6 separate regions of the Homo sapiens genome follow, and regions 1, 3, 4, 5 and 6 are each reported to be linked to region 2. Evidence: microRNA targets listed by miRTarBase, many of them from high-throughput screens and not tested one by one. Region 2 holds a microRNA gene; each other region holds the end of a gene's coding sequence. Distances are between the middles of the regions.
The links. The annotated mature microRNA hsa-miR-6821-3p reads UGACCUCUCCGCUCCGCACAG and lies in region 2 at 1,477-1,497, shown strand. An mRNA with a match to its seed (bases 2 to 7 or 8) in the 3' UTR can be bound and repressed. Matches are read on the target gene's strand: a 7mer-m8 pairs with bases 2 to 8, a 7mer-A1 pairs with bases 2 to 7 and ends in A, and an 8mer does both.

Region 1: miRTarBase lists SLC1A5 as a target of hsa-miR-6821-3p. The part of its 3' UTR that is shown has no 7-base or 8-base seed match.
Region 3: the mRNA of STOML1 is a reported target of hsa-miR-6821-3p. Seed matches in the 3' UTR shown: 7mer-m8 at 2,406-2,412.
Region 4: miRTarBase lists SPIRE2 as a target of hsa-miR-6821-3p. Seed matches in the 3' UTR shown: 7mer-A1 at 2,120-2,126.
Region 5: miRTarBase lists MYADM as a target of hsa-miR-6821-3p. Seed matches in the 3' UTR shown: 7mer-A1 at 1,722-1,728.
Region 6: the mRNA of PPM1F is a reported target of hsa-miR-6821-3p. Seed matches in the 3' UTR shown: 8mer at 2,605-2,612 and 7mer-m8 at 398-404.

What each region holds. Positions count from the first base shown.
Region 1 is chr19:46,772,828-46,775,921 of GRCh38, forward strand. It overlaps SLC1A5 (solute carrier family 1 member 5), which reads right to left. Exons shown (of 8, transcript NM_005628.3): 8 at 2,056-2,920. The coding sequence ends at 2,683. Among named protein-coding and RNA genes, the nearest start is that of SLC1A5, 14 kb to the right of the region's middle.
Region 2 is chr22:49,961,443-49,964,540 of GRCh38, forward strand. It overlaps MIR6821 (microRNA 6821), which reads left to right and starts at 1,424; the gene lies at 1,424-1,497. PIM3 (Pim-3 proto-oncogene, serine/threonine kinase) reads left to right here. Exons shown (of 6, transcript NM_001001852.4): 4 at 1-369; 5 at 1,247-1,423; 6 at 1,498-2,630. The coding sequence ends at 1,685. RefSeq lists silencers at 493-542, 673-1,192.
Region 3 is chr15:73,981,079-73,984,176 of GRCh38, forward strand. It overlaps STOML1 (stomatin like 1), which reads right to left. Exons shown (of 7, transcript NM_004809.5): 7 at 1-3,052. The coding sequence ends at 2,859. Among named protein-coding and RNA genes, the nearest start is that of STOML1, 9.7 kb to the right of the region's middle. RefSeq lists an enhancer at 754-943.
Region 4 is chr16:89,869,898-89,872,995 of GRCh38, reverse strand. It overlaps SPIRE2 (spire type actin nucleation factor 2), which reads right to left. Exons shown (of 15, transcript NM_032451.2): 15 at 1,677-2,946. The coding sequence ends at 2,724. It overlaps LOC112268179 (a long non-coding RNA gene), which reads left to right. Exons shown (of 2, transcript XR_002957933.2): 1 at 1-28; 2 at 1,075-2,619. Among named protein-coding and RNA genes, the nearest start is that of TCF25, 2.1 kb to the left of the region's middle. RefSeq lists an enhancer at 1-646.
Region 5 is chr19:53,873,973-53,877,070 of GRCh38, reverse strand. It overlaps MYADM (myeloid associated differentiation marker), which reads right to left. Exons shown (of 3, transcript NM_138373.5): 3 at 636-3,098. The coding sequence ends at 2,573. Among named protein-coding and RNA genes, the nearest start is that of MYADM-AS1, 6.4 kb to the right of the region's middle.
Region 6 is chr22:21,920,199-21,923,296 of GRCh38, forward strand. PPM1F (protein phosphatase, Mg2+/Mn2+ dependent 1F) reads right to left here. Exons shown (of 8, transcript NM_014634.4): 8 at 1-3,098. The coding sequence ends at 2,894. Among named protein-coding and RNA genes, the nearest start is that of PPM1F-AS1, 16 kb to the right of the region's middle. RefSeq lists enhancers at 1-364, 1,026-1,684.

The sequences.
Region 1 (3,094 bases), not on the chromosome of region 2:
GCTCTGTCACCCAGGCTGGAGTGCAGTGGCACAATCTCGGCTCACTGCAAGCTCCGCCCCCTGGGTTCACCACATTCTCCTGCCTCAGCCTCCAGAGTAGCTAGGATTACAGGCGCCCGCCACCATGCCCTGCTAATTTTTTGTATTTTTAGTAGAGATGGGGTTTCACCATATTAGCCAGGATGGTCTCGATCTCCTGACCTCATGATCCGCCCACCTCGGCCTCCCAAAGTGCTAGGATTACAGGCATGAAGCCACCGTGCCTGGCCCCATATTCATTCTCAAAGGTCACCACTGTTCTGATTTCCCACCATAGGCCAGTTGAGCATGTTCTAGCCCTCCTCTAAATGGAACTATACAGTATTTACCGTCTCTGGCTTCTTTATCTCAACAAATTATCTGAAATGCATTTCTGTTGCAGTGTAGGTCGATATCGCTCTTATTTATTGCTGAGTAATCTTCCATTGTATGAATGTACCAGTGTATCCAATTGATTTGTTCCCAAATTTTGGCAATGATGAGTACAGCAGCTAAACGTTTGTGGACACATTTTTGTAAAAGCAAAAGTTTTCACTTCTCTTGGGTAAATACCCAGGAGTGCAACTCCTAAGCTGCATAGTAAATAAATATATATTATATATATATATATTTTTTTTTTTTTTTGAGACAGAGTTTTGCTTTTGTCACCCAGACTGGAGTGCAATGGTGAGATCTTGGCTCACTGCAACATTCTGCCTCCTGGGTTCAAGCGATTCTCCTGCCTCAGCCTCCCAAGTAGCTGGGACTACAGGCATGTGCCACCACGCCCGGCTAATTTTTGTATTTTTAGTGGAGACGGGGTTTCACCATGTTGGCCAGGCTGGTCTCGAACTCCTGACCTCAGGTGATCCATCCACCTCGGCCTCCCAAAGTGTTGGGATTACAGGCGTGAGCCACTGCACCCAGCCTGTATTTTTTAACTTTATTAAGAAACTGCCCAGTTATTTTCCAAAACAACTCAGCCATCTACTAAGGGAGCACCAACCAAGAGATGAGGAGTCCTGTTGTATCCCATCCTCCCTTGGTCTTGTATTCAGCCATTCTACTGTGTATAGTGGTGTCTCATTGTGGTTTCCCGTGGTGTTTAAGAGACAGGGTCTGGCTGGGCGTGGTGGCTCACGCCTGTAATACCAGCACTTTGGGAGGCCAAGGTGGGTGGATCACTTGAGGCACCGGTCTCTACTAAAAATACAAAAATTAGCTGGGCATGGTGGCAGATACCTGTAGTCCCAGCTACTTCGGAGGCTGAGGCAGGAGAATCGCTTGAACCTGGGAGGCGGAGGTTGCAGTGAGCCAAGATCGTGCCACTGCACTGCACTCCAGCCCAGACAACAGAGCCAGACTCCGTTTCAAAAAAAAAAAAAAAAAAAAGCGACAGGGTCTCACTCTGTTGCCCAGGCTGGAGTGCAGTGGCATGATCATGGGTCACTGCATCCTTAAACTCCTGGGCTCAAGGAATCCTCCCCACCGCAGACTTCTGAGTAGCTGGGACTGCAGGTGTGCACCACTGCACCTGCCTAATTTTTTGTGTTGTTTTTGAGACAGAGTTTTGCTCTTTCACCCGGGCTAGAGTGCAGTGGTGCGATCTCGGCTCACTGCAACCTCTGCCTCCCGGGTTCAAGCAATTCTCCTACCTCAGCCTCCTGAGTAGCTGGGACTACAGGCGCCCACCACCATGTCTGGCTAATTTTTATATTTTTAGTAGAGACAGGGTTTCACCATGTTGGCCAGGCTGATCTTGAACTCCTGACCTCGTGATTCGCCCGCCTCGGCCTCCCAAAGTGCTGGGATTACAGGTGTGAGCCACCGTGCTCGGCCTTAATTTTTGTATTTTTTTGTAGAGACGATGTCTCACTATGTTGCCCAGGCTTGTCTTGAACTCCTGGCCTGGAGTGATCTCAAAGTGCTGGGATTACAGGTGTGAGCCCCCATGCCCAGCCCAGTGGTGTTTCTTGATGAGCAGATACTGTCATTGCAGTGGCCAGTGCTTTAAGTCAAATTCTCAAGAACACCTGATTAAATAGTTGACACTCAATTTTATTGCTAAAAAAAATGTCCTCTGGAGTGACAGCAGGTATTTGTCCTCAGCCTCTCCCCAGAGTCCCTGGGAGTGTTTCTGTTATTGTGGAGGGAATAGGGGATCTGGGGACAGGGTGGGACGTACCATGGGGACAGGAGGTCACAGAACACACACACACACACACACACACACACACACACACACGTGCACACACACATCCCCCCACAACTACAGCCGCCAAAATAACCAGCATGGTGTTGTAACATCCCCCCAGTGGGGGCTAGAATTCCCCATGGTGACCTGTGACCTGCTCCCTGAGACAGGGGAGGCCAGGCAGGTCACGGTGGGGACGCAGCAGAACATTATTTCTCCATCTTGCTGTTTTCTAGCCTTGAGTTGGGGACATGAGTGAGAACTGGGGGTTTTGAGGAGTAACCCTTGTGAACACATGTACTCCAGCAGCCAGGCATCCCAGATCTCCTGTCCTGGAGGGTGCTGGGGCCCCTGGCTCCCCAGAGTGTGCAGGCAGACCCCCAGAGCCCTAGCTCATCCATTTATCCATTCCTCATAATCCAGTGTCCAAAGAGCACCCCCAGCAGGGCAGGGAAGGTCCCTCCCGGGGTTTACATGACTGATTCCTTCTCAGAGGCGACCGTGGCATCCCCTGCGGGCCCCCGATAGTGTTTGAGGAGGGGGTTTCCTTCCTCAGTGGGGACTGGCAGCGGATCCAGGGGCAGCTCACTCTTCACTTGTATCAACTCAGGCTCTGTGCTTCTCGACTCCGTACGGTCCACGTAATTTTGGAGGAGTCCTGCCCCCAGAGCGTCACCTTCTACATTGAGGACGGTACAGGACCGGTCGCTAAAGGGGTAGAAATGACAGCAAAGTAAGCGGGAGGGGAGAGGGTGAGAGGGAAGGAAAGGGCCAAGGCCTAAGCCTCCTGCCTCTCTCCCCCTGGAATCTAAAAAGTAAAAATTAAGAGTTGGAGTCAGCCTGGGCAACATAGTGAGATCCCATCTTTATATATATTTAAAA
Region 2 (3,098 bases):
GCGGCGCGACCGTGCCCCTGGAGGTGGTGCTGCTGCGCAAGGTGGGCGCGGCGGGCGGCGCGCGCGGCGTCATCCGCCTGCTGGACTGGTTCGAGCGGCCCGACGGCTTCCTGCTGGTGCTGGAGCGGCCCGAGCCGGCGCAGGACCTCTTCGACTTTATCACGGAGCGCGGCGCCCTGGACGAGCCGCTGGCGCGCCGCTTCTTCGCGCAGGTGCTGGCCGCCGTGCGCCACTGCCACAGCTGCGGGGTCGTGCACCGCGACATTAAGGACGAAAATCTGCTTGTGGACCTGCGCTCCGGAGAGCTCAAGCTCATCGACTTCGGTTCGGGTGCGCTGCTCAAGGACACGGTCTACACCGACTTCGACGGTGAGCGCGGGCGCGGGGCAGGGAACGTTCCGGGGGCCTTGCCGGCGGGTTAACGCCTGCAGGGGCGGCACATGGAGGGGCTGATGACTGTTGGGCGGCCGCGCGCCCTGGGTCTGCTCTCGTGGGGAGCAGAGGCCCACGCGCTACCCTGGGGAGGGCTGAGCGAGGGATCAAGAGCGGGATCGTGCTGGGTGGGGGCTAGGGGCGCGCTCAATATTGCTTCCTCCATCGCGTTGGGGGGTACGGGGCCTCTTGCCCCGGTGTGGGAGGCGCGTGACATCCTTCCGGCCCGAGAGACCCCCGGCTGGGGGCGGTAGCGGAGGAGTCTCCGTGCGTGACGCAGGGCGCAGCCGGGCTGGGTCTGCGCCGGGAGCCTGGAGGCCCCCGCGGCGCGGTTGGAGTGGCGGGGCCTCCCCTGCGTGGGGGCGGGAGCTGCGTGCGTGCGGAGCGCGGGGGCGCGGCGGCAGAAATCCCCGCATTGCGGAGCTTGGGGAAGCCGGGGCTCCCCGCCCGCCCCTCCCTCCTCCCTCCCTCTCTCCCCTCCCCCCGTTCCCGCAGGCAGGCGCGCCGGGCGGTAAGGGACCCGCGCTGTCCCCCCCCCACCCAGGTAGCCTCACAGCGCATCTGTTTGTTGTGAAAGCCGAGCTCTTACTCATGTGACCTGCTCCTCCCCCGCGGCCGGCGGAGGGGGACGGCCGGCCCCTCCCCCAGCCCCCCCATCGCCTGCCGGGGTTTTTCCAGGGTGATGACGAGCAGGATTTTGAGGCCTGGCTCTGCTTCCTGTTACTGAGGCCAGGGAGTTAACCAGCAGGGACCTCGCCGTCTGTTGAGCGGCTCTGCCTCTGTGGTGGGCGTGCTAAGCCCTGTGTCCCCTTAGGCACCCGAGTGTACAGCCCCCCGGAGTGGATCCGCTACCACCGCTACCACGGGCGCTCGGCCACCGTGTGGTCGCTGGGCGTGCTTCTCTACGATATGGTGTGTGGGGACATCCCCTTCGAGCAGGACGAGGAGATCCTCCGAGGCCGCCTGCTCTTCCGGAGGAGGGTCTCTCCAGGTGCGTGGTGGCTCGAGGCGGGGGTGGGGGCCTCGCCCTGCTTGGGCCCTCCCTGACCTCTCCGCTCCGCACAGAGTGCCAGCAGCTGATCCGGTGGTGCCTGTCCCTGCGGCCCTCAGAGCGGCCGTCGCTGGATCAGATTGCGGCCCATCCCTGGATGCTGGGGGCTGACGGGGGCGTCCCGGAGAGCTGTGACCTGCGGCTGTGCACCCTCGACCCTGATGACGTGGCCAGCACCACGTCCAGCAGCGAGAGCTTGTGAGGAGCTGCACCTGACTGGGAGCTAGGGGACCACCTGCCTTGGCCAGACCTGGGACGCCCCCAGACCCTGACTTTCTCCTGCGTGGGCCGTCTCCTCCTGCGGAAGCAGTGACCTCTGACCCCTGGTGACCTTCGCTTTGAGTGCCTTTTGAACGCTGGTCCCGCGGGACTTGGTTTTCTCAAGCTCTGTCTGTCCAAAGACGCTCCGGTCGAGGTCCCGCCTGCCCTGGGTGGATACTTGAACCCCAGACGCCCCTCTGTGCTGCTGTGTCCGGAGGCGGCCTTCCCATCTGCCTGCCCACCCGGAGCTCTTTCCGCCGGCGCAGGGTCCCAAGCCCACCTCCCGCCCTCAGTCCTGCGGTGTGCGTCTGGGCACGTCCTGCACACACAATGCAAGTCCTGGCCTCCGCGCCCGCCCGCCCACGCGAGCCGTACCCGCCGCCAACTCTGTTATTTATGGTGTGACCCCCTGGAGGTGCCCTCGGCCCACCGGGGCTATTTATTGTTTAATTTATTTGTTGAGGTTATTTCCTCTGAGCAGTCTGCCTCTCCCAAGCCCCAGGGGACAGTGGGGAGGCAGGGGAGGGGGTGGCTGTGGTCCAGGGACCCCAGGCCCTGATTCCTGTGCCTGGCGTCTGTCCCGGCCCCGCCTGTCAGAAGATGAACATGTATAGTGGCTAACTTAAGGGGAGTGGGTGACCCTGACACTTCCAGGCACTGTGCCCAGGGTTTGGGTTTTAAATTATTGACTTTGTACAGTCTGCTTGTGGGCTCTGAAAGCTGGGGTGGGGCCAGAGCCTGAGCGTTTAATTTATTCAGTACCTGTGTTTGTGTGAATGCGGTGTGTGCAGGCATCGCAGATGGGGGTTCTTTCAGTTCAAAAGTGAGATGTCTGGAGATCATATTTTTTTATACAGGTATTTCAATTAAAATGTTTTTGTACATAGTGGATAATCCTGTATTTATGGGGCTGGGCATCCTGGGGGAAGAGAGGGGCTCTGAGGAAGGGCTTTGGCTGCTGGGTGACCTGACAAGTTTCCCGTGGGGCTGGTAGTTTTGCCCACGGGGGAAACGGGGGAGGCCCAGCTGGGTGCCAGCCTCCCCAGTGCCACAGGCTACTTCATGTGGCTTGTGGCCCACCGCACTACCCCGTGCTGCACCCAGGGAGAAGAGCAGCTGCCTCCTGGGGTGCCTCTGGGAGGTGGAGGCAGGGAGCCAGGCCCTGAGGATGCAGCAACCCACACTAGTCAGGAGGTCATTCCTCGGTGGTCCCAGGAGGATCTCTGCAGCCCCCACCCAGGGAGGCCTTGCCAGTGGAAATGGCCATACTTGCATCCTGGCTTGGTGGAAACAGAGACGTGCGGGGGGGTGGGGGAGGGAGTCCATGCTGCCTCAGAGGGTGGCTGGGGGTTTT
Region 3 (3,098 bases), not on the chromosome of region 2:
GGTGCGGTGGCTCACACCTATAATCCCAGCACTTTGGGAGGCCTAGGCAGGCAGATCACTTGAGGTCAGGAGTTCGAGACCAGCCTGGTCAACATGGTGAAATCCCATCTCTACTAAAAATACAAAAATTAACCAGGTGTGGTGGTATGCGCCTATAATCCTGGCTACTCAGGTGTCTGAGGCAGGAGAATCACTTGAATCCGGGAGGTAGAGGTTGCAGTGAGCTGAGATTGTACTGTACTCTAACATGGGCAACAGAGTAAGACTCTTGTTTCAAAAAAAAATAAAATACTTTTCAATAACATCAAAATAACACATTATATATTAATATATTAACTAGGATACTTAAACTATTATCATTATTCACCAGGTTATCTTGAAGAAAAATATAATAAGAAGTGTCTAGTCCGGTATAAGGACATATTTGGCACACAGTAATGGTTACTATTTCTATACCCTGCCCCTCAAATGCCCGCACACAACCTGTCTGGTACTTCAGGTTCTAGTTCCCCGAAGCCCAGTTGCCTGACTGCCTCTTCCAGCTGTGCCCTTGCAGGGACTTCTCCTCTGCTGAATGATTTTCCCCATCTCTTCTTATTGTCCACCTACTTGGTAGCTGGGATGTGGAGGACATCACCTCCTCAGGAAAGCCTTCTCTGATTGACACACACCCTCCTCCTCCCTCTTCACACCGACCCTTTAGGTGGCCCTTGTCCTTCCTCCCCTGTGGACTGCAGGGTCTGCTCAGTCCTCTGTAGTCCTGGAGTGCTGGCCAAGGATCGAGCTCCCCTCCACAGGGTGGGGATTCATGGCAGGGGCAGGCCTTACTCTCCACCTACACAGACATCCAGAAAAGTTTCGGTTTCCCCTAAACGTTATGTTGATCTTCCCATGCTCACAAAGAAGAGTTTGGGTTTCCCCTAAGTTGTGATCTCATTTTTCCTGTCTTCCCTACCCTCCAGCCCTACCCCAGCCAAGGGGCCGTGCCAGCTTTCATGGTGAAGATGCCTGGGGTTTCCTGGGCAGCCCTTCATATACTGTGTAATAGCAATGGAAGGAATCCACAGGTGAATGCTGATGCAGGAAGCTCCCAGTCCAGCAGGGAGGGCAGCCATATATGCAAGGAGCAGAAACACACAATGTGGAATGGGTGCAGAGAGCCAGGCAAGGGCACAGAGGACAAGTCTCACTGGGCCTCAAAGGGTGGCCACAGTGTGGCTGCGGGGATTGGAGGGCAGGCTTTGGAACAGACAGCCTCAGCTAGAAAGCCCTGGGAGGGCCCATGAGAGGCCTCCAAGTAGGCAAAGGGGCAACAGCAGGTGCAGCAGCCTGGGACTCTAGGAAGGGGCCCTGGAAACCTGAACCTCAATGGCCATGGCAGTGACAGAGGGGTCTGTGCTGGGCTTTAGGGAGGTGCCTCAGGCAATGTGGAGGACCTCCAGGAGGCGGGACAAGGCAGTGTCTGGCAAAGGCAGGGACAGACAGCAAACAAGACAGAGCCAGGCACCCAGGAAGGGCAGAGACCCCTTGGGGGAGAGGGAAGTTGCGGTGCCACAGGACAGGCTGGGGGCTGTTCTTAAGGGGAGGCTTTGATTTTTGTGGTTTTGTTTTTCCCAGAAGTCTCTCCAAGGAGTAAGATTCCTTTCTTAGGACTCAAGAAGTCAGAGGCCCCCTTCTCTGGGGCCCCTGGGGTTTGGGCGAGAGTACTGGAGCAGAAAGCAGGGCTGGGCTGGGCCTGGGGCCAGACCTCAATGACTGTTTCCTTCCCGTCAGCGAGCGGAGAAGCAGTGACAGAGTGTACCAGGAGGGGAAGCTGACGGTGGCCCCAACTCCTCTCTTGAATGGGATATGACCACCCCACCTGCCCCTCAGTGTTTGCAGGACACTCTGGCACACTCATGCCTTCCTTTCCTGGTGAACCTGTATCCCACTACAAAGAGGAACAGAACTCCCCACCCAGCCCCACCCTTGCTTCCAGGGGCTTTGAGACACTCAGGAGAAGGAGCTTCAAATATTGTGAGGGTCTGTCTGTGTCAGCCACCAGGATGTCAATCCCTGCCTGGGCTGGCAGCATGGACCTTGTGGACCCTCCTAGCCCACCCCATGCCCCCAGGAGCCCCGCTTGGCTTCTTCTCTTTTATACATTGTAAACACCACATTTATTTGTCTGAGGCTTGCAAACCTCTGGTAAGAAGCACAGAACGCAGGGCTCTCCTTCATGCTGCCCTGGGCCCCAGCTCGCCAGGCATGCAGGACAGAGCTGGCAGATGAGTCAGAAATCTTTGGGAGCAGCGCCAGGGAAGCAGCAGGCCCTGCTCCTTCCCATGCCCAATCCCGCCAGCACGGGCCTGGACTGCAGCCAGGAAGGTGGGCCAGCCAGGATCCCCAGGTAACTTCGCCACAGGGACCTCTTCTTGGAGCTGCCTTCCCTTCCCTCCCCATCCCTCTCCAATCCCCGCAGAGCTTAGAGCCTGGGCCACATGCTTGGTCCCTCACACAAGGACCAAACCAGCTGCTGTCAGGCTGTTTCTGTGGGTCCTGTCTCTCCAGTCAGGAAGCCAGCAGGGCAGGGCAGGCCTGGCTCTCCTCCTGGAATCACACCGTGCACCCAGCTCAGCGCTGGGCACTCAGCTGGGGACCGGGATGGACAAAGCCTTGTCCAGAGAACCACTGTAGGGGAGACGTGCATGGCAGCCGGACTCAGCCTCCTGCAGCCTCCATTCATGGGCTCTTGGCTGGGCCTGAAATTTGTTAGGGCCTCAACTCTCTGTGGTGCAGATGAACACCTCCTCCTCCAAGAGGCCCCTCAGGCTTGGTGCCAGGCTTGGGACTGGGCTCTGGAAAGTCAGCCAAGGCTGCTACTTCAAGGCCCTGAGGACAGCCTCCAGCTTCATGGCCATAGCCAGGTCGCCCTTCACCTTCAGCCGTCCACTCATGTAGGCCCCCAGGGGCCGCAGCTCTCTGCATAGCAGGGCCCGCAGGTCTGCCTCGGCCATCTCCACCACCACATCAGGGATGCCATCAGGCACCCCGTGTCCCACTCTTCCTCGTCCTGTGGGGCAAAAGAAAACCGAGTGTCAGTAGGGGAATGGAGGAAC
Region 4 (3,098 bases), not on the chromosome of region 2:
TGTAATCCCAGCACTTTGGGAGGCCAAGGTGGGCGAATCACCTGAGGTCGGGAATTCGAGACCAGGTTGGGCAACACGGTGAAACTCCCTCTACTAAAAATACAAAAATTAGCTGGGCGTGGCTGCGCACGCCTGTAATCCCAGCTACTCGGGAGGCTGAGGCTGCAGTGAGCCGAGATCGCGCCACTGCACTCCAGCCTGGGCGACAGAGCCAGACCCTGTCTCAAAAAAATGAAAAAAATAAAGTAGATGAGGCTGAGACAGTGCTGGGTTCAGTGGGCGGAGGGCACAGCTTCCTGTGCCTGGGGTTGGGGACATGGGGACAGGAGGGCATAGAGAAGACAGGTGCCAGCAGCCTCCTGCCCGACTTACTGCGGCTTCATGAGCACAAGCAGCAGCCCTGGTGAGCCGGCCTGGCCCCTCCCAGGATGGGTTAGGGTTTTATTTTATTTTGTGAGATGAGGTCTTGCTCTGTTGCCCAGGCTGGAGTGCAGTGGCGCAATCTCGGCTCACTGCAACCTCCATCTCCCAGGCTCAAGCACTTCTCCTGTCTCAGCCTCCCGAGTAGCTGGGACTACAGGCATGTGCCACCATGCCCGGCTAATTTTTGTACTCAGTAGAGATGGGGTTTCACCATGTTGGCCAGGCTGGTCTCGAACTCCTGACCTCAAGTGATCTGCCCACCTCACCCTCCAAAAGTGCTGGGATTACAGGTGTGAGCCACTGCACCTGCCGTGGTTTAGGGTTTTAACGTGGGCTTTCATTTCCAAGTGTTCCTGTATGAATTACAACCCAGTCTCCCCATGATAGGGAGTGTGAGTCCCCGTAGAACCAGAACAACCGTCGTCCTTACCAAGCACTACACATTAGCTTATTGCTGGCTGTGTGACCGGAGGAGTTCCCTGACCCTCTCTGTGCCTGTTTTCTTATTTTTAAACAGGAATAAAAATACAGGCCAGAGAGTCCGTGAAATGCTTACACGCATGCTAGAAGCTGGCTGTTTTTACTGGGGGCTCTAATTTTGTGTGTTTGGATTTCCTGGACCCCAGCTGACAGGAGTATTTTCTCCCGCAGGCCCATCAGTTACAAGTCCTGTCCCTTCTGACCTCCAGGCCCCACGGCTAGCATTACAGCCTGGAGTCAAAGTTCTGGGTGAGCTGTGTATCTTTGGCCAAATTCTTTGACCTCGTTGAGCCTCAGTTCCCTCATCTGTAAGGTAAGATGACGGCAGAACGTCACGGAGGAGCAGGGCAGGGCCCCGTTAACAGGCTGAGCCGGGCGCAGGTGAGCAGACAGCACTCGGCACAGGGCCTGTCTAGAGCCTGCAGTCACACCTCCTGCCCCTGTGGATCCTCTCCCTGGAGAACGAGAATACGGATCTGGGAAATGAGACCAAAGTACCCCCCAGGCCAGCAGGTGTGGCCAGAGGAGCTGATGGGCAGTAGTCTGTGCCGTCCGCATGCAGCCCTGACCATGGTGGCCAGGACCACGAAGCTGGTAGAGGCAGCCAGGGCTGCGTGGACAGAGCAGGCCTGGAGCCCTTGCCTGGTGGGCACCTGACTCTAAGCCAGGAGGCCTTTCCTCGTCCTGGAAGGCAGGTGGCCCCTCAAGCCCAGCTTCAACCTTGGGAGAACATGCCATGCTGGGTGAATCCTCAGCGCACATCCCAGACAGAAGACTGTGAGACCTCCTTTATTAGGCCAAGAGTGGCCATGTGCACAGATTTACAGAGCTGCTCCTCCCTGTGCCAGGACCGCCCAGCATCTTCAGGAGCCTCTGGGCCAGGGGCGAGTGAGGACAGCACCAGAATGTGGTAGGGCCAGGAGAGGCAGGACACATGTGGTTTGGACCCCAGGGAAAGGGAAAGGGCAAGGGCAGGGAGCAGCTTGGCACGGACCTTTTTTTTTTTCGAGACAGAGTCTCGCTCTGTCGCCCAGGCTGGAGTGCAGTGGTGCAATCTCGGCTCACTGCAACCTACACCTCCCGGGTTCAAGCGATTCTCCTGCCTCAGCCTCCCCTGTAGCTGGGATTACAGGTTCCTGCCACTATACCTGGCTAATTTTTGCATTTTCAGTAGAGACAACATTTCATCATGTTGGCCAGGCTGGTCTCAAACTCCTGACCTCAGGTGATCCTCCCTCCTCGGCCTCCCAAAGTGCTGGAATTACAGGCCTGAACCACCACGCCTGGCCAGACCTTTCAAACAGGTGGGGGTGCCTCCCAGGAGGACCCTGCCTACTCAGAGACTTCCCAGATGCCTCTGCTGCCTGAGTCCCCACAAAGGGAGAGCAGAGGCAAGCAGGGCACTCTGGTCCAGCTGGGAGCCAAGATACCCTGTCCCCACCTAGACGTCCACTGGGGAAGGGAAACTGCCGTTCGCATTCCTGGGGACGGAGAAGAGCATGGGAACATGGGATGCAGTCTGTGCCAGGATCTAGAACCTTCTGCTTTCTCTCTTCAGTGAGAAAACCCACCCTGTTCCCTCCCCTTCCTCCCTGGCAAGGAATCCTGAGAAGAAACAGCCTCCCCCAGGGAGGGTTTTGAAGTGCGCCTGAACCCAAATGAGCTCTGGGGCCAGGAAACAGTGTATATAAATATATAGACTGTGTGTATATATTATAAATGTATCTATATATGTATATATGTACATGCACAGCTCAGAGCGTCCTAGCCTGATACAGGGCCTGCCTGGTGCCTCCTGGAGGCCTGGCCACCTGGGGCTGTCACTTGAAGTCAAGAGTCCTGGTGTTAGGGATGTAGAGGGATTGGGTCTGGCGACTGCGTCGTGGCGTAGTGTTGAGGACGTCCACGCTCTTGCGGCTGGAACGCACCACGTCTGCCACAAAGCTGGTGCACTCACTGCAGACATCCTTCAGGACACAGCCGTGGGAGTAGATGTGGGGGAACGCCTCCTCCACGCTCTGCCACTGTGGCCCTTGCAGAGACCTGGGAAGTGGGAGAGGGCACTCAGGGAGAGGAGCCAGCCAGGGTGCCACACCCCCCTCCCTGCTTGTGCATGCCACAGCCCCCTCCTGGCTGCCTTTCACCCTAGGCCTCCCCTTGGCCCTCAGGCAACAAACACAGCTAGCAGTGTTCAT
Region 5 (3,098 bases), not on the chromosome of region 2:
GATGAAAGAATCCCTCTGGAGCCAGGGTGGGATGGAGGAGAAGGAGGCTGGGGCAATAGCTCAGGTGAAACAAAATGGAACTTGAGCTGGACCAGGAACCTGGAGAAGAGGGCGGTAGAAATGGTATTTAGGGGGAAGAATAGACAGTGTTTGATGAGGGACTGACTTGAGTAGACGGGGGGAAGGTACCACCATGTGCTTGGGTTCTCAGCTCTGAGAGGCTATTACTGAAATGGGGGGACCTGGGAGGACGAGGTGACTGGGGAGGAAAGCTCCTTCACTCAAATTAGGACGTTGTATTTGTGAGGTGCTCAGGGGACAGACTCCAAGGAGGGAGAAGTCTAGTTCATTTCTATCCCACCCAGCCCTCCTGGTTTGAGGAAGTCATTTAGAAGACCTAGATCCAGCTAGTATCTTCTGATGAGGCCAAGGTTGTCTTGGCACCAACCCTATTCTCCCACTAGACCCAAGAATCTGGCCCTTGCCCCTCTCCGAGAGTCCTCCCCCGCTTTTCTTTTTTATTTTTTTGTAGAGACGGGGTTTCACCATGTTGGCCAGGCTGGTCTCAAACTCCTGACCTCAAGTGATCCGCCCGCCGTGCTCGGCCGCCCTCCTCATTAAGAAAGCACAAGTCCTTCTTTTACCTTTATATTGATATTTAAAAGAAAAAGAACATGATGGATACGGGAATGGGGGAAGGGACAACGGTTCTACGATTAACAACAGGAACTGATAGGAACCAGAAGCTCCAGGGATTTAAAAAAAAATAAAATATATATTTATACATTTATATATATATATATATATATCACGTTATGTATGTGAGTCCCAGACAAGCAGGAAGCAGCAGCAAGAAGCAACTAGCACACAGAAACACCCGTGCGTGTGCACTACACATTCAAGCAAAGCCATTCCTCTAGCTAGGACGCAGCAATCCCCACCCTCCCACCTACGGGCAAAAGAGAACAGCTGAAAACAAACTTCCCTCTTTAAGGGCCACTCAGTAATTTTTGTCCTCATGGCCAGGAAAAAGAAAGAAAAACAAAACAAAACAGAAAAGGTCGATCTTGCCTTGAAAGCGGGCAGTGGCTATTTTCTTCTCTCTGCCAAAGCAGGACACGTTATTCTTAACACAGAGGGCCACATCGCTGTCCCTCACAAATACTTCAGACAGTTGTCTTCAACATCCTGTGGTTCTTCGTCCGATTCCTTTTTTTTTTTGAGATGGAGTCTCGCTCTGTCCCCCAGGCTGGAGCACAGTGGTGCCATCTTGACTTACTGCAACCTCCACCTCCCGGGTTGAAGGGATTCTCCTGTCTCAGTCCCCCCAAATACCTGGGATTACAGGCGCCCGCCACCACGCCCGGCTAATTTTTGTATTTTTAATAGAGACATGCTTTCACCATGTTGGCCAGGCTGGTCTTGAACTCCTGACTTCAGATGATTGCCTGACTTGGTCTCCCAAAGTGCTGGGATTACAGGCGTGAGCCACCACGCCCGGCCCCGACTCCTTCTTTTTTTTTTTTTTTCTTTTTGATACCACAGAGAATAGTTGGGATGAAAGGCATCCAGCCCCTGCTTCCTTTAAGATGGCCTCTAGGCAGTGGGTGTTCTGTAAGCCTGGCAAAAATTCTGGAGCCAATCTCTGGCAAGGCTGAGTGCCAGGCGGGGCCTAGGGACCCAGGGTCGGTGCTTAAAGCCTCCCGCCCATTGGAAATTACTGACCTCCAAATATATATATATATATGTTTTTTAATTTAAAGGGGAAGTACACTGCACACCTTCCTCCACTGGGAGAAAGAGGGCCCAATCCCCAGCTACCCACCCCCCACCCCCCAAACACACACACACACACACACACACACACACACGTACACACTGACTAAGGCACAGCGAGGGTGGGCAGGCATGCTTTGGCAATGGGGCCCCTTGGGGGGCTGTGGCATGGACGGCTGCAAGGGGTGTGGATGTGAGCTCAGCACCTTTGGAGGTGGGTGGAGGCAAGGAGAGAAAGAAGTCTCAGGGCTCCCAAGGACACAGGAGAAGGTGCTTGCAAAACAGGCAGATAAGAAAGCCGACAGGCAACCCAGAAAAGAGATGAGAAAAAAGAAGAGTGGAAAAAGAGAAACAGGCTGGGTGCGGCAGCTCACACCTGTCCTCCCAGCTACTTGGGAGGCTGGGGCAGGAGAATCGCTTGAACCCAGGAGGCGGGGGTTGCAGTGAGTCGAGATCGCACCACTGCACTCCAGCCTGGGCCACAGAGTGAGAATCCGTCTTAAAAAAAAAAAAAAAAAAAAAAGAAAAGAAAAAGAGAAACAGCTCAGGGGTGAAAACAGGATGTGGGCAACAAAACAACACAGGAAGGAAACAGCAAGAGGAAAGGGAAGGAAGAAGATGCATCCAAGAACTGGTTAGAGTGCAAGGAATTGGGAAGGAAAGAAAAAGGTGGGAGGGAGGGGAGACAGGAAGAGGAAAACAGAGGAAAGGCGGAGGAAAGAAGTACTCCATAAAGAAAACTCGGGCAAGAAGAACAAAGAGGTTGGAGAGGGAACGGGAGCCTCTTGGGAGAGTCTTAGACCTTGACAAAAACCAGGTGGGCAGAGTGCACCAGGTCAGCCACATACGCCAGTAGGTTGATGGCCGTCAGGATGGCCACAGCCAGTCGGCGGTCCCAGGCACACACGTAGTAGGCATGGCTGCGGCTGCAGCTTACATCTCTCGAGCGCCGAGGCTGGCCGCCATACTTCTCATCGAACTGGTAGAGGGGCCAGAGAACAAGGGCGGTGGCATAGAGGAGGACAGACAGCAAGGCCAGCCCCGACAGGAAGCTGGGGAAGGGGATGGGTAGCACGTTGGTGCACTCCCCCAGGTTCAGCAGGATGGCGATGGCCGCTAGGATGAAGCAGATGGCGTACACCGCCACGCACCACTCCAGGGCCGGCTGGTGCTGGTACAGGTTGGGGTCGCTGATGAACGCGAAGATGATGCAGGCAACGAAGGTCTCCAGCACCTTCAGCAGCCCGGGTACGGTGGCCATATAGCCAGTGATCTCGCCGGGCCGGGCCCGGGTCCAGGCCACTTCGGTGGCGTAAGCCACA
Region 6 (3,098 bases), 28 Mb from region 2:
GTGCTGGCAGCATCTCCCCAGGACACGCCGGCTCACCTGCACCCACAGCGTTCTAGGAGGTCGCGGCCTCTGCAGACTCAGTGCAACCCCTGGGCCTTACAAAAGGGACACTCAGAGGTGCACTGCCTGCTCAGCTCACACAAGGAACAAGTGGAGAGCTGGGCTGGAGAAAGGATTACAATTTACAGACCAGTGTCCCTGGCTAGGGGCCCTCATGGGACTGTGGCTGGAAGAGAAGGTCGCCCCGGAGGTTGGAGGCTGAAGACACCTGGTGCTTCTTGGTGCAGTCCTGGTCAAGATGGAAGAGCGCTCCTCTGTGCCCAGCTGCTGTGCAGGGGTGGACGAGGGCTCCCTCGGCCCCAAGGCAAGGGCGGAGCAGCTCCCAGTGCTGGCACCAGACCTCTGCCAGGCACGGGGCATGGCCATCCTCTGGGGTCCTGGCTCAGGGGTGGGGAGCGGCAGTGCTGGGACAAGCCTGGGGAAAGGGTTTCCCATACACTGAGGCTGCGAGATCTTCCAGTGGAGCCTCAGGCTAGGGTATGAATCAGACCACCAGGTGATAGGAGCCAAACCTCCACATGGTGAAACTTCACTCTCGGCAGCCAGGAACAGAATTATTAGCAAAGAAAAGAGAAAAGCAGATGCCAATCATTCTCTCTCTTCGTCAAGGTTATGCCCACGGGCAGGGTGGGCTAGTGGTGAGGGTGGAGCTGCGTCCCTGACCCCCAGAAGGAGACAGCAGGCCTTCAAGTTAAGCCAAGCAATACTTGGTCATTGTTTGTGGCCAACCATTCTCTGAATGTCTGAATGACAGCGACTATGTTTAAGGTTTTTTTTTGTAAATAAGAGACCTTAAGCAATGCATTGACTGCATGGTCTCAACCTCATCTGTGCTGTGAGAATGAGGGGTAAGGCTGGGCATGCAGGTAGGGCCCCAGCAAAGCTGGCTCCCCGCTCCCTGTGGGACAGAGGGCTCCCACCGGGAAGGCGGCTCTAGCGTGCCTCCTCGGCGAGCTGAGAGGAGGCCAAGGTGCTTGGGGCACAGCTGTGCAAACCTTCCTGGGGCTCTCGCTGTCTGCAGGTGGACTCTGAATGCCTTCATGGGGACCACACAGCCCAGCTTCCTCCCTTTCTCCTCTCCTCCCCCTGCACTGCTCTGACCTGCCTGGAGCAGCCCTGCCCACCTCCAGCTCAGCCCTTCCTGTGGCTTGGCCCTGCAGATGGCCTCTGAGTCCTCCCCTAGCCCCCTGCCCTCTTCCCTCTACCCGACACCCTCCCCCAGCCTTGCCACTTTCAACTTTGCACGCCCTCAGTGAGCTCCCTGAGGCACCCAGGATCGGTCACTTGTGAGCCCCCTCTCAGGGTGCACTAGGGGACGTGGAGCTCTCATGCCTGTTCAGGGCATGGGGCAGAGCAAGGCAGGCGTGCTGCCAGCCACCGCGGCAAGGTGAGGGGCTGTGGCCTGTGCCATGGACTCCCAGCAGCATCCCTGCTGCCTCCAGACTGAGACAGAGACCCACGGGCTGCCTCTGTGCTTGCCTGAGCCTCTTAATTAAGAGTCTTTCCCAATGAGACCAATTTGATTACAAATTCACAAGATATTTGGGAATGTTCCAATCACACAGCAGCAAGGTCCCTCTGCCTGGGATCCAGCCAGGCCCAAGGGGGTGGGAATGCAGGCAGATGGGCCAAGGTCACCCGGGATGCCCAGAGCCCCGCTGTCGGGCCCAGGCACCACTACGTGGCAGTCGCAGCTCCTGCCAGTCACCTGGGCAGCGGGGGGAGGGGAGAACCTTGGGGGTGTTCAGCATCACAAAGAGGCGGAAAACTCTTCCAGAAAGATCTCACCAAAATCATGCCTCCCTAACAAAACAAATCCTGCTTTTCTAAAAACCTCAATGGGCCTATCCGAGCCCACTGCAGTCCTAGTTTCTTCAAAGCTGTGTAAGGCACTTGAATGGCTTATTAACACCACCTGGAAAAGTTCCTGTTTCAATCCTGATTTAGAAAATAAATTCAATAATACTGCAAAAAAAGGTTCCTTGAAAAATAGCTTTAAAAAAGTAAATACTTAAGTTTTCTAAAGAATAAAATAAATGCTAAGCTCTGCTTAAATTATATGACACAACAGGTCATCTTGGCACTGATAAAACAAAGAGAAAACCTGGAATACTGCTTCGGAATTAGACCTCCCTGGAAAAAAACAAACACACCAACAAAAGACACATGTGCGTCGCCGGTTCCGGGCTCAGGGAAGAGAGCAGCCCGGAAGGCCCTGGTGGGCCCAAGCACATCATGGCTGCCCTGGAGTGGGGGCAGGGGGGTGGCTGCTACAGAACAGACCCCTGGCTCTGCTGCGCTCTCCTCTTTGGGACACTGGTGTGGCCGACCAGGACTGGCTGGGCATATCTGTAAATATGAACCCACCTGGCCCTGGCCGCAGAGAGGAGCAATGGGAAACTGGGGCTGGCCACTCCGCTGCTGGGCCTGACCCAGGGGGTGCTTCAAGAGTTTGGCTCCTGGGTCCGCCCCAGGGTCCCACGTGCACAACCATGCTGCCCCATGCACACCAGTGTCTTTGGTTTGGCTGCCGTTGGGCACCTATGACCTCTGGTCCCACCCCGGGCCTAATAGGAGCTGGGAGCAAGAGCCGGTCCATCTTCTCTTTGGTGAGGTCTCCTAAGCTGCCTTCCACCATCTGCCCGCCACCCAGTGCAGTTCCACAGCCACCAGGACGGGCTGCGGGGGGTGTCCCGACTGGCTCTGGGGTGCTGGGGAAAGCACTGTGGGGCGGGCACCCTGTCCACTGCCTGCCACCTGTTGGGTCCTGAGGCTTCTGAGGGAGAGAAGGACAAGGATGGGAGGAAGGGGAGGGCAGGGGCCTGGAAACCACCTAGCTTCTTGGTGGAGCCTGGGTCTCAGGTTCTGGAAGGCTGGAGGGCAAGTCCTGCCTCCTCCCTTCTGCCTGGGGGTCCCCTTCTCCCTGGTTCCCGCCCTCCAGCAGCTCTTGGGGGTCCCTGAGGAAGACCACCATGACCGTGATGTTGTCGTGGGAGCCCCGCTCCCGGGCCGCAGCCACCAGCTCCTCGGCGACACGG